3 linked regions of the Homo sapiens genome follow. Changing the gene in region 2 together with the main gene of any one other region gives a genetic interaction. Each region holds a gene or a part of one and is shown on either strand. Other genes may lie near its edges.

The links.
Region 1: changes in EED (region 2) and SEC24C together harm fitness less than expected from each alone (positive genetic interaction), as found in Homo sapiens cells (one large-scale study listed by BioGRID).
Region 3: changes in EED (region 2) and IGF1R together harm fitness less than expected from each alone (positive genetic interaction), as found in Homo sapiens cells (one large-scale study listed by BioGRID).

The regions. Positions count from the first base shown.
Region 1 is NC_000010.11:73,764,817-73,768,467, reverse strand, and holds part of SEC24C (protein transport protein Sec24C), read right to left. Parts: intron 3,018-3,651; coding exon 2,879-3,017; intron 2,669-2,878; coding exon 2,553-2,668; intron 2,383-2,552; coding exon 2,258-2,382; intron 2,119-2,257; coding exon 1,927-2,118; intron 1,709-1,926; coding exon 1,615-1,708; intron 1,415-1,614; coding exon 1,298-1,414; intron 632-1,297; coding exon 461-631; intron 1-460. UniProt on the Homo sapiens protein: Component of the coat protein complex II (COPII) which promotes the formation of transport vesicles from the endoplasmic reticulum (ER).
Region 2 is NC_000011.10:86,254,604-86,258,254, reverse strand, and holds part of EED (polycomb protein EED), read right to left. Parts: intron 3,034-3,651; coding exon 2,968-3,033; intron 1,869-2,967; coding exon 1,743-1,868; intron 741-1,742; coding exon 659-740; intron 1-658. UniProt on the Homo sapiens protein: Polycomb group (PcG) protein. Component of the PRC2/EED-EZH2 complex, which methylates 'Lys-9' and 'Lys-27' of histone H3, leading to transcriptional repression of the affected target gene.
Region 3 is NC_000015.10:98,914,039-98,917,689, forward strand, and holds part of IGF1R (insulin-like growth factor 1 receptor isoform 1 precursor), read left to right. Parts: intron 1-1,925; coding exon 1,926-2,093; intron 2,094-2,633; coding exon 2,634-2,838; intron 2,839-3,651. UniProt on the Homo sapiens protein: Receptor tyrosine kinase which mediates actions of insulin-like growth factor 1 (IGF1). Binds IGF1 with high affinity and IGF2 and insulin (INS) with a lower affinity. The activated IGF1R is involved in cell growth and survival control.

The sequences.
Region 1 (3,651 bases), on a different chromosome or scaffold from region 2:
TTCCAAGGCCCATGTTCCTAACTGCCACATTCTCGGGCTCACTTCTTCAGACTATGCAGTCTTCTCTTCCAACACTATTTCTTCTTTTTTGGAGACGGAGTCTTACTCTGTCGCTCTGGCTGGAGTGCAGTGGCGCAATCTCGGCTCACCACAACCTCCACCTCCCGGGTTCAAGGGATTCTTAGCTTCCTGAGTAGCTGGGATTACAGGCGCCCGCCACCACACCCGACTAATTTTTGTATTTTTCGTAGAGATGGGGTTTTGCCATGTTGGCCAGGCTGGTCTTGAACTCCTGACCTCAGGTGATCTGCCTGCCTCAGCCTCCCAAAGTGCTAGGATTACAGGTGTGAGGCACCGTGCCTGGCCCCAACACTATTTCTATTAATGAGTCAGCCACTGCATATATAAGCAGATATTCCCAGCCCTGCTGCCACCTGCTGCCCCAAATCCCACACCATACCTGAAAGGAAGCATATTTGTAGACAGAGCCACCAGTGAGCTGGGGCACAACAGAGAGTGTGGCCACATCCACATACTGGTTAGGGAAGAGAAAGAGATCTACACAGCAGCCTTGGGCCACACACTCTTTGGCCAGGGTCTGATAGGCACCTGTCTGAGGCTGGAACAGAGTCTAGGGGGAAAGAAAATGGGGAGAAGAAAATGTTCAAATATCTCAGCTCCGCCCTATTTGAAAACTGTATATCTAGCATGGGATATTCAAATTCATGGAAGACTTCAGATCTACTTCCAAGGATTTTCCAATAGTAAAAAATTTTCTTTTATATTATTTTTATTTTTTTGAGACAGGGTCTCACTCTGTCACCCAGGCTGGCATAGAGTGGCATGATCTCAGCTCACTGCAACCTCTGCCTCCCAGGTTCAAGCGATTCTCCTGCCTCAGACTCCCAAGTAGCTGGGATTACAGGTGTGTGCCACCACACCTGGCTAATTTTTGTATTTTTAGTAGAGACGGGGTTTTGCCATGTTAGTCAGGCTGGTCTCAAACTTCTGGCCTCAAAAATCTGCCCGCCTTGGCCTCCCAAAGCGCTCGGATTACAGGCATGAGCCATCATGCCCGGCCAAAAGTTCTTCTTTAAAAAATAAATAAATACAAGAGTCTACCAACAGCTTTGGCATCAGATGGAGTAGAGAAGTATGGCAGCAGTGGAGGTTGGCAGTCACAGATATGGTATTTGAAAGGGTGGAGTGTCTGGTCCTAGCCACCATCAAGAAAGTAGAGTCCCCACTTCCTCTGTAATGAAAAATCCTTCCCCTCCCCCATTTTCCAGTCCCACACCTTCTCCTTGTCTGTATTGATCAGCTTCCTGTCATCTCTGTTCTTCAGTTTCCCTGGGGCCTCTGCAATGGGCAGGGATGTATGGAATAGAAAGAGCTTCCCTGCACACTCAGCAGCCTAGGAAAAAAGAGAGGACTACTTGTTTATTCTTTATTCATCCATCTCTTCCCTTGTCATTTATTAAGCACCAGCTATGTCAGACAGTCTAACACACTGGACAGTCACCCACTACTGAAGAAAGAGAGGTTGTATCCCAGGGGATAAGATGGTCAGAGGAAAATGGAGTTAGAGGAGGTTGCCCGATACTCCAGCCTTACCTTCAGAGCCTCCATTCCAGCCTGGATAACTGGTACAAATACTGTCTCTGTTTCCCTTGTGTCTGCAAACATTTCTGGAATCTGATCCAATAAGCTAAAGAGATAGGTGACGGAAAACAACCAAAATTGCTATACAGATTCCAGATACCTCAGTTCTCGATTCCCTGAAGAGTCATCAAGCCTCTAGAATCTGACAACTCCTGGGCCACAACCCCTTTCCATCTACTGTCCAATACCTCTGTTCAACTCCATGACCTTCTATGGTGGTACCCATGCCACCCCCAACCTTTACCTCCACAATCTGGCTCTTACCTGGTGATAACTGCCCGAGACTCATTGACGTTGACCAGGAAGCCATCCAGCAGTGGCACAAACATGTCAGCCACATCAGACACAACCATCATCTGTGGCTGGGCCAATGAGCTCTTCACATTATAGAAGTGGAGCACCTTATTGTAGGTGACAAAGCCAACGCGGATTGCTGACTCTTCTGCCCCACCCTCCCTGTAGAAGGTGACATTGTTACCTAGACTTGCCACCTTTTCCACCACCCACAACTTCATGACACCAAGCTACATTTCTTCAGTCAACCCAGACACCCTATCATTAACCTCAGGAAACACCTCAGTTCTGTAACTCTCACCTAGGTAGAAAGTCTAACAGTGACTTGAGCTCCTCACAGAGGAGCCTAACAAGACCAGTCCTGATGGCATTGTAGGAGACGTCAATCATGAAGATAAAGGCAGGAGGGCTGGGGAACTTATTGTTCTGCAGAGGAAGAAAATGTTGGGGAGAGGGGGAATGGTAAGCAGGCCAGTTGACTATAGAGAAGTCAGCATCAAAAAGGGACAAAAAAGGGGTGAGGGAAATGATAACAGCCATTCTCAGCTGTCTCATTATCCTCCACTCACTGCTCCTCCCATGCTACCTTCCCTCACCTTGCAGTAATCTACAGTGGCCAAGAATTCATAAGAGCCCAGGGATAGCTCAGGGCGGTCATAAGCATCCACACGTTTGCCGGTATGATCCAGGTGCTGAAAATACTGGGGGGGAACTGTGGGAAGCATGGCAGTGTGTTACTCGAAGATCCAGTTTCAATCTTAGTATTCTGGCCCTAGCTGAGCTCACACCACTATCCCTCATTCCCATGTGCCCTACTTCCCCAGCTCCTGAAAGATGGACCCTCATCTCTCTAACTATTTAATAGAGAACAAGGAAGATACAATCAAGACCTTCCCCCAAATCCCAGCTTCCATGAACATACCATCATTGATACAGCTGCAAAAACAGCACTGGAAACGCCTCCCTCCTTCAATGAACTGCATGAAGGGACACATGTATGCTTTGCAGCGGTTGCAGCGCAAAGGGCCAGATTCCCCATGGTCCACAACATACGGTGAAGCCTAAGGCGCAAAGGGGAAGGGATCAGACATAAAGGAAAACCACAGTAGGTTCAGCCAGGAGATGAGGAAGAACAACCGGAGGAAGAAGGCGCATGGCGCAGATATTCTGTCTGCAGAGGGAGTAGGGAGCACAATGATGAAAGGGAGTAAAGACAAATCACAGGAAAATGTCCCTATGAGTAAAAATTATATAGTTCCCTCTTCCTACATCCCACCCCCAGAGCTGCATTTCTCACTGAAAGAGAAGAGGAAATGCAAAACCGGCCATATCAGACTAGGGGCTGCCATGGGCATATGAGGGAGAAAGCCAAGATTATCTAGGATTCTCCTTTCTGGCCCCATCTCTAATGCCCTTCACTCTTGCTCTAAGAATCTTGATTCCAGCTCCTTCCCTAACCAAATATCTGTAACACCTCCTCCCGTATCCCTGGGATTCTGTGCCAGTTACTGATGCCCCAGGCAAATGTCACCCTACACATAAGAGACCAGTGCCCAACTATCCCCAATGGGACCCAGATAGAAATAGACAAACACACAGAGAAAGACGGAGAGATAAGCAGAATATAAACTGAGCCTTTGGCTTCTAGTAACAGAGAACCCTATCGTAAGATAAGCAAGGCTGAATATGAGTATC
Region 2 (3,651 bases):
TTTATTATTACATGATTGGACAAAATGATTTGGATATGCTAACATAGCCTGGGATTTTCCTACTAAAATGTACTGTTATAACCTTTTTTTTAATTTGGCTTTATTTCCTTAGAACACTATCTGTCCATACACTGGGGCCTACTGGAGGGTAGAGGGTGGGAGGAGTAAGAAGATCAGGAAAAATAACTAACAGATACTAGACTTAAAATAAAACAGGACCTGTCAACCTAAGTAACAGAGAGGCTCTCTAAAATAAAAGATGTTTATATGGAAATAATGCACTGCAATGAGAATGTACATGCCAAAGTAAACTATGTGTGTTCTCCGAGACGTAAAGGAAAGACAGAGGTTTTTAAAGAAAAAAATGAGAAGGATTACATAATTGTTTTGAAATAAGATTGGCCACAAAATCAGTAACAAGGGTGATGCCAGTCTCAGGATGGAGAGGCACTTACTGCCAGTATTTTCTGTGTAAGGCTGTGATGGCCTTTGTGCAAGGTTGTGGTTGTGTTTTTTTGTGAGTTTTTATTATCAGACATACAAGCATGTGGACTCTCTTCTCATGGTTTTTCCTATTTGTCAGGGTTTTCTTGACATTAGTGACTCCATCTTAATTCTGACAAATTGCACAGACTCAAGAAACATTTGCTTCACTTACCTTTACTTACTGACAGGAGAAGATTTGGATCTCTTGGATGGAATTTCAGCTCATTGATAGCATTTCCATGGCCAACATAGTGCTACAATAAATTTAAAACATTTCAAGTTTCCTATCTCAAAATCAGTAAATTTTTTTTCATAAATCTTTAGAGAATGTAAAAATAGTTTCACTTAAAGTAGTGGTTCTCAACCTTGGCTGCATACTAAAATCACCCAACAAACTTGAGGTGAAAAGGAAAAAAAAAAAAAAAAAAGACCCCAGGCACAGTGGGTGGCTCATGTTTTTAATCCAAGCACTTTGGAAAGCTAAGGCAGAATCGCTTGAGGTCAGGAGTTCAAGACCAGTCAGAGCAATGCAGCAAGACCCTATCTTCATACACACACACACACACACACACACACACACACAAATTAAAAATTGGCCCCAGCTACTTGAGAGGCTGAGGCAGGAGGATCGCTTGAGCCCAGGAGACGGGCTGCAGTGAGCTATAATCATGCTACTACATTCCAGCCCGGGCAAAGGAGTCAGAATCTGTCTCAGAACAAAAAAAAAAAAAGATGCTCAAAACTCCACCTGCAGATATTCTGATCGGATTAGCGGAGGCTCCAATATGCGTAGGGTTTTAAGCATCCTCAGGAGAGTGTGATGTAGCCCAACAGTTAAAAACAGGTGATGAAAGTGATTTGAAAAACCCGTCTTCTTATCAACTTCCTAGGCTTCACCTTTATGTTCGTTACAAGGTCCCTTTGATAACACCCCTCCAGTTTAGGTGTCTTGGAAAATGGACTCCCTCTTATTGTTCATTTAGAGCCTCTCAAAGTAAACCATGACAAGGGTGAAAGAGGGAAATGATTTAAAAAGAAAGCACTACAAATATTAACATTTTCCCACTTATTCCTTAATTTACATTACCCAAATGTGACAAACGTCTCAAAAGACTCATCCAAAGAGAGCAGTAAGAAAAGTACAAATCAAATGAGAAATGTTACATTCATACCATTAGTTTTAAATTTAACATTACAAGTTTTTACAGTTGTGGATTCAAAAGAAGCAGATCTACAATTTAACCAGAAAAACCCACCTTTATACACTGCATTGTTATAGGATTTATTATCCTAATTATGCCTCTAGATCCAGCTACAGCCAGCAGAGGATGGCTCGTATTGCTATCATAGGTCCATGCACAAGTGTAAAAGTTTTCATCAGCCTAAGAAATTCCACAGTTAAGAAACATAATGTTTTTGAAAAAGAAACATGTCAATAATTATAATAGAAACTTATAAAGAACTGCTAAAGTTTTTGACACCAAAGTTCTCAATTTTCCTTATACAACCAAATATATACAATGGTGATTTGAGGTCTAAAATCCATAACAAATGATCAAACAAAATTACAGTCTCTCCACTCAATTTTGTTTACTCTTTAGCTGCTTGTACAACTACTCAACTCTGTAGTTGCAGTACCAAAATAACTGCAGAAAATATACAAATGAATGGGCATGGTTGTGTTCAAAACAAAACTTTACAAAAACAGGTGACCAACCTGCACGCTGTAGTTTAACCTCTGCTCTATCCCCATACCTCTATAAATATCTAAAAAAGAACAATTCAGTTTTCCACTTTTTTCTTTGTGAGACAGTCTCAATACAACAACAGGTCACATTTCAATATCTTTTAGAGAAGACTGAATGTCCTTGCCTTGTCTTGTTTGCTAGGTTTTTCAAATGGATCTGGAAGAAATATCTTATTACTTAGCTTTTACCGCTCTAACTCGGGCTTTTCAAATTTTTCTGTTTCTTTATGAACCTGTTTTGCAATTTTTATTTCCTATTTTATTTTATTTTTATATATTTTATTTTTCCTAAACTTTTTTTTTCTTCCTAGGCTTCGTTGATCAAATACTTAGAATGACTACCAGTCACAAGCCAAGTTCATCATTATAACTACAATGAAATGATATATTCTAGGCAAGGTCAAAGAAAAAGGAGGTTTTAATCAGTCTTTGCTAATATTTTCTATTACTAGATTTCTAATGCTCCTATCTCTATAGACATCTGCACCCAACCAGCACATCCATCCCACAATGGATTCTTTTCTTTTTCTTTTTGCCTAGCTGAGTTGACACATACCACAATGGATTTCTAAGGGTCAGGAAAACTAGATACAGGATTCTCTTGGGTGATAGTGAAGAAATCGGTTAAGAAAGAACAATAACTTTAGGGAAATGATTAATTTATAAAAGTTTTGGTGCACTTATTGAAAATAAATTCCTTTGACTAAAGATATTAAAAACCCAGGAAAGGATACATCAGCATCCACGTAAGATTGCAACAACCGGATTTCTCCTTGTGAATGACATTCATACAAGGTAACCTAATGAAAATAAAAATACAGTAAATTTCATCTCAAGTATAGAAAACATACTCTCTCCAACTTTTAAACATATTTTAATCGCAATCCTATCTTAAATATACTACAGAAACTACTGCCTTAAAATACCTCCTGTGAGCTTAAAGAAGCCATTATAAAGCTGAATGTTTTACATAATACACAGAGCATATTAAATATTGCAGTAATAGTCGTTTCGATTTCCAATCTTTTAAACTTATATTTCATCCATTCAATTGCCTAGGCAACATAGCAAAACCCCATCTCTATTAAAAAATAAATATTAGGCCGGGCACGGTGGCTCACGCCTGTAATCCCAGCATTTTGGGAGGCCAAGGCATGCGGATCATGAGGTCAAGAGATCAAGACCATCCTGGCCAATATGGTGAAACCCTGTCTCTACCAAAAATACAAAAATTAGCTGAGCGTGGTGGCACATGCCCGTAATCCCAGCTACTCAGGAGGCTGAGGCTGGTGAATCACTTGAACCCGGGAGGCGGAGGTTGCAGTGAGCCGAGATTGCACCATTGCACTCCAGCCTGGCAACAAAAGCGAAACTCTGTCTCAAAAAAAAATAAAATAAAATAAGTCCGGACACAGTGG
Region 3 (3,651 bases), on a different chromosome or scaffold from region 2:
CGCTGGCAGATTTGGTGTCTGGTGAGGGCCCACTCCCTGGCTCATAGATGGCTGTCTTTTCATTGTGTCCTTGCATGGTGGCAGGGATGCGGGAGCACTCTCCGGGGCCTCTCATAGAAGGGCCTGGATTCCATTCATGAGGGCTTCACTCCCATGACCCAATCACCTCCCAAAGGCCATGCCTCCTAATTCCATCCCCTTAGGGGTTAGGATTTTGACATGTGAGTTTTGGTAGGGGACACAGGCATTCACTCTATAGCACTGATAAACATTCTTTGATAATAGCCATTATTTTAGTGGGTAAGGTGTTTTTAAATACCCATAAGCGAGCACAAAATCAGTTTAAATGGCAGAGAGGAGGGTGAGAAGAAAATGCTGGTGGGGAAAACCTTTTGCTGTGCACGCCTGCTCCTTCCTCCACTCCTACCCCATCTCCATGACCCTGTAAGTGGCCACAGTCATGTCACTGGGTAAAGTGCTTATTGAAACAAAATTGGCACAGGCTTCTGATCCTGCGTGTGGGTTGGTGTAGCAGAGGTTCAGTGCAACAGAAGAAGTTTTTCATCTTAAAATTTGGAAGTAACCCCTGGCCAGCAATTCACTGTAGTGTTTGGGAAACATAGGAATATCTGCTTATTGTGACAGATTCTCAAGAAACCTGTTTCCTTTCCACAAAGATGGAAACCAGGCACTGTACCAATGAGTCAGTTCACTACGTTTTGTCCTCTGTCCTTACACGCAGCGGAGACAGACGAGAACTTGGTCCTCTGCCTCTGCTGTTTGGTGACACCTATCGTAAGAATGTATCTAGGAATGAGCTGTTTGTTTTTGAAGTACTTATTTTTGGAAACCCTAAAGTGGCTGAGCATCAAGTGGTTGTGTTTTCTCTGAAAACGCCAGTATTAGTCATAACCTTTTTCCAAAGTATCATCCCTTAAAGATGTTCAGAACCTTGTGTGTATCGTATAACCTGGAGCACCCTCAAGCTGTCCGCCCTTTTCAAGTTTTAAAAATGGCTTAGGCAAACATATTGCTTAAGTGATATCCAGTGAAGGTGTCTCCTGTGCTTTGAAAAACCATCAACATTGATGCTTTTTTGTGACCCAATAAGGACAAGATTTCAGTGGTTCTGGGATGCATTTGATCTTTATGCACACTTCAGCTCTGGGTTTCAGTTCAGGGGTCAGCATAAGTAAAGCTTGATCAGATAACTATGCTTTGCCTATAATCGGCATTCATTCTGCTGGTGACAGAGTCCTTTGCTCAAAATGAGGCTTCCATGCGTTTGCAGTTCTAAACTGCTTTTCAGAGTCATGCCTCAGTCATTGTACTGAAGGATGCCTGTGGAAATGGTGGACTTCCGTGTTCTTTGCATTGCCTCTCCCCCATCCCTCTTACACACAGCTGTGACATGGGCATGCACACTCCTTCACACACACAGACTCTCCAGGCCCCTTTCCACTTCCTCTTTCCATTTGGCTTCATGACATTTTTATCAGAGATTCAAAATCTCAGATGAAATCCAAGTCAGCCTGTTTTACCAGTTGTCGAAATTGCCGGAGTGCAGCACTGTGGAGAATGGCAGTTGTAATAAATGAGAAATACCAGGTGTTTGAATTAGCTGTAGATTTTCACATTGTCTCTTCTAACCCTGCTTGTGCCCCCGCAGCCTTTTTCCATTTACAACTCAGTAATGTTTGTTTTCACAGAGATTACCGGAGGAAATAGATTATAAAGGGAAATGTTGGCATTTATAGTAGTACTATTTCAAAATAAGGTTCACTTTTCACTTTGTATTTCATTGTTCATTGTTATTTTCTTATCCAGGTCAAACTGGCAGTTTCCTGTTGGCTTGCCAGAGTATCTGATAGCCTGACTCTTAAGTTCATTTCATTTTCTAGAATGTTCTTTGTTCCCCTCTCCAGTTCCTTCCATTCCCTTGGACGTTCTTTCAGCATCGAACTCCTCTTCTCAGTTAATCGTGAAGTGGAACCCTCCCTCTCTGCCCAACGGCAACCTGAGTTACTACATTGTGCGCTGGCAGCGGCAGCCTCAGGACGGCTACCTTTACCGGCACAATTACTGCTCCAAAGGTAAGGGTGCAGCAGCGGCCTGGACGGAGGGTGTGACCGTTCATTCCTGTGGTTGTAATGTGCCTGAGCCCTAATATTACACGTATCAGACAACAGTGTAGTTCTCCATTGGAAACCAGCTATCTTCTGGTTTTTTTTTTTTTTTTTTGAGACAGAGTCTCACTCTGTTGCCCAGGCTGGAGTGCAGTGGCACGATCATGGCTCACTGCAATTTCTGCCTCCCAGGTTCAAGCATTTCTCATTCCCCAGCATTCCGAGTAGCTGGGATTACAGGCATGCACCACCATGCCCAGCTAATTTTTGTATTTTTAGTAGAGACGGGGTTTCACCATGTTGCCCAGGCTGGTCTGAAACTCCTAACCTCAGGTGATTTGCCCGCCTCGGCCTCCCAAAGTGCTGGGATTATAGCCTTGAGCCACCACATCTGGCCGAGACCAGCTATCTTCTTGATTAAAGGTACTGAGAGCTATTATTTTTCCTTACAAGCATGTATAACGGCTTTCATTCCCACTCTTGTTTTGGCTTTTCTTTTCCGAGAAGACAAAATCCCCATCAGGAAGTATGCCGACGGCACCATCGACATTGAGGAGGTCACAGAGAACCCCAAGACTGAGGTGTGTGGTGGGGAGAAAGGGCCTTGCTGCGCCTGCCCCAAAACTGAAGCCGAGAAGCAGGCCGAGAAGGAGGAGGCTGAATACCGCAAAGTCTTTGAGAATTTCCTGCACAACTCCATCTTCGTGCCCAGGTACCCAGCTCATGTGAAATTTCAGTTGGCAAAACCCACTGCTCAGGCCGGTTCTGTTGCCTTTCTCCCCACCAGGTAGTGTGTAAGTCAGCAGCTGGGGGGTACAATACAGTAGCCACTGAGACGGAGCCGAAAAAGATGACAGGTTCGGTGAAGTGAGTCCCTGCGGAAGCCAGTCAGCCCTGAAGGGAACAGGGACCAGGGCTTGGGTTGCTGGGGCCACCGGTGTGACAGGTACTGCTGTCTCAGCCACAACCCCCCACAGAGAGCAGGTGGGCACCCTGTGGTAGAGGCAGGGAGGGGAAACTCAAAGAGTATTGACAGCTGCTGCCTGGTGAGAGGAAAGGCCAGGATTTGGGTCCATCTCTGCCCTTCCTAATTATCTTTACTGCCTCTCTCAGCCTCACAGAGGAGGAGTGAAGCAAGAGGGAAAAAAGTCAGAGTCTGTGCTGGAAAGGGCCTGACTTCAAAACATAGCCAGGTGCCACAGGCATCCTGTACAAGTAAGTTTGGGAAGCAGTGTAGGGCGACAGCCTGCATTGGCTGTTTATTCCGTGGTTACTCTGTCTTTCAAAGCAACACAGCCCCTGCCCCAGGGACTCTGCTCCTCTGCTGTGGTCTTGGTTTCTGGGGAGTGGGGACAAAAGCAGAGGAAAGTAAACGTTCATAGCAGGACTGTTCATAGTAGCCAAATCTGGAAACCCAGTGTACATCAACAGGTGAGTGGCTCAATAAAATGGGCTCGAACCTTACAGTAGAATATTATTCAGCCATAAAAAGGGAGGAAATTTTGATCCATGTCACAACACAGAT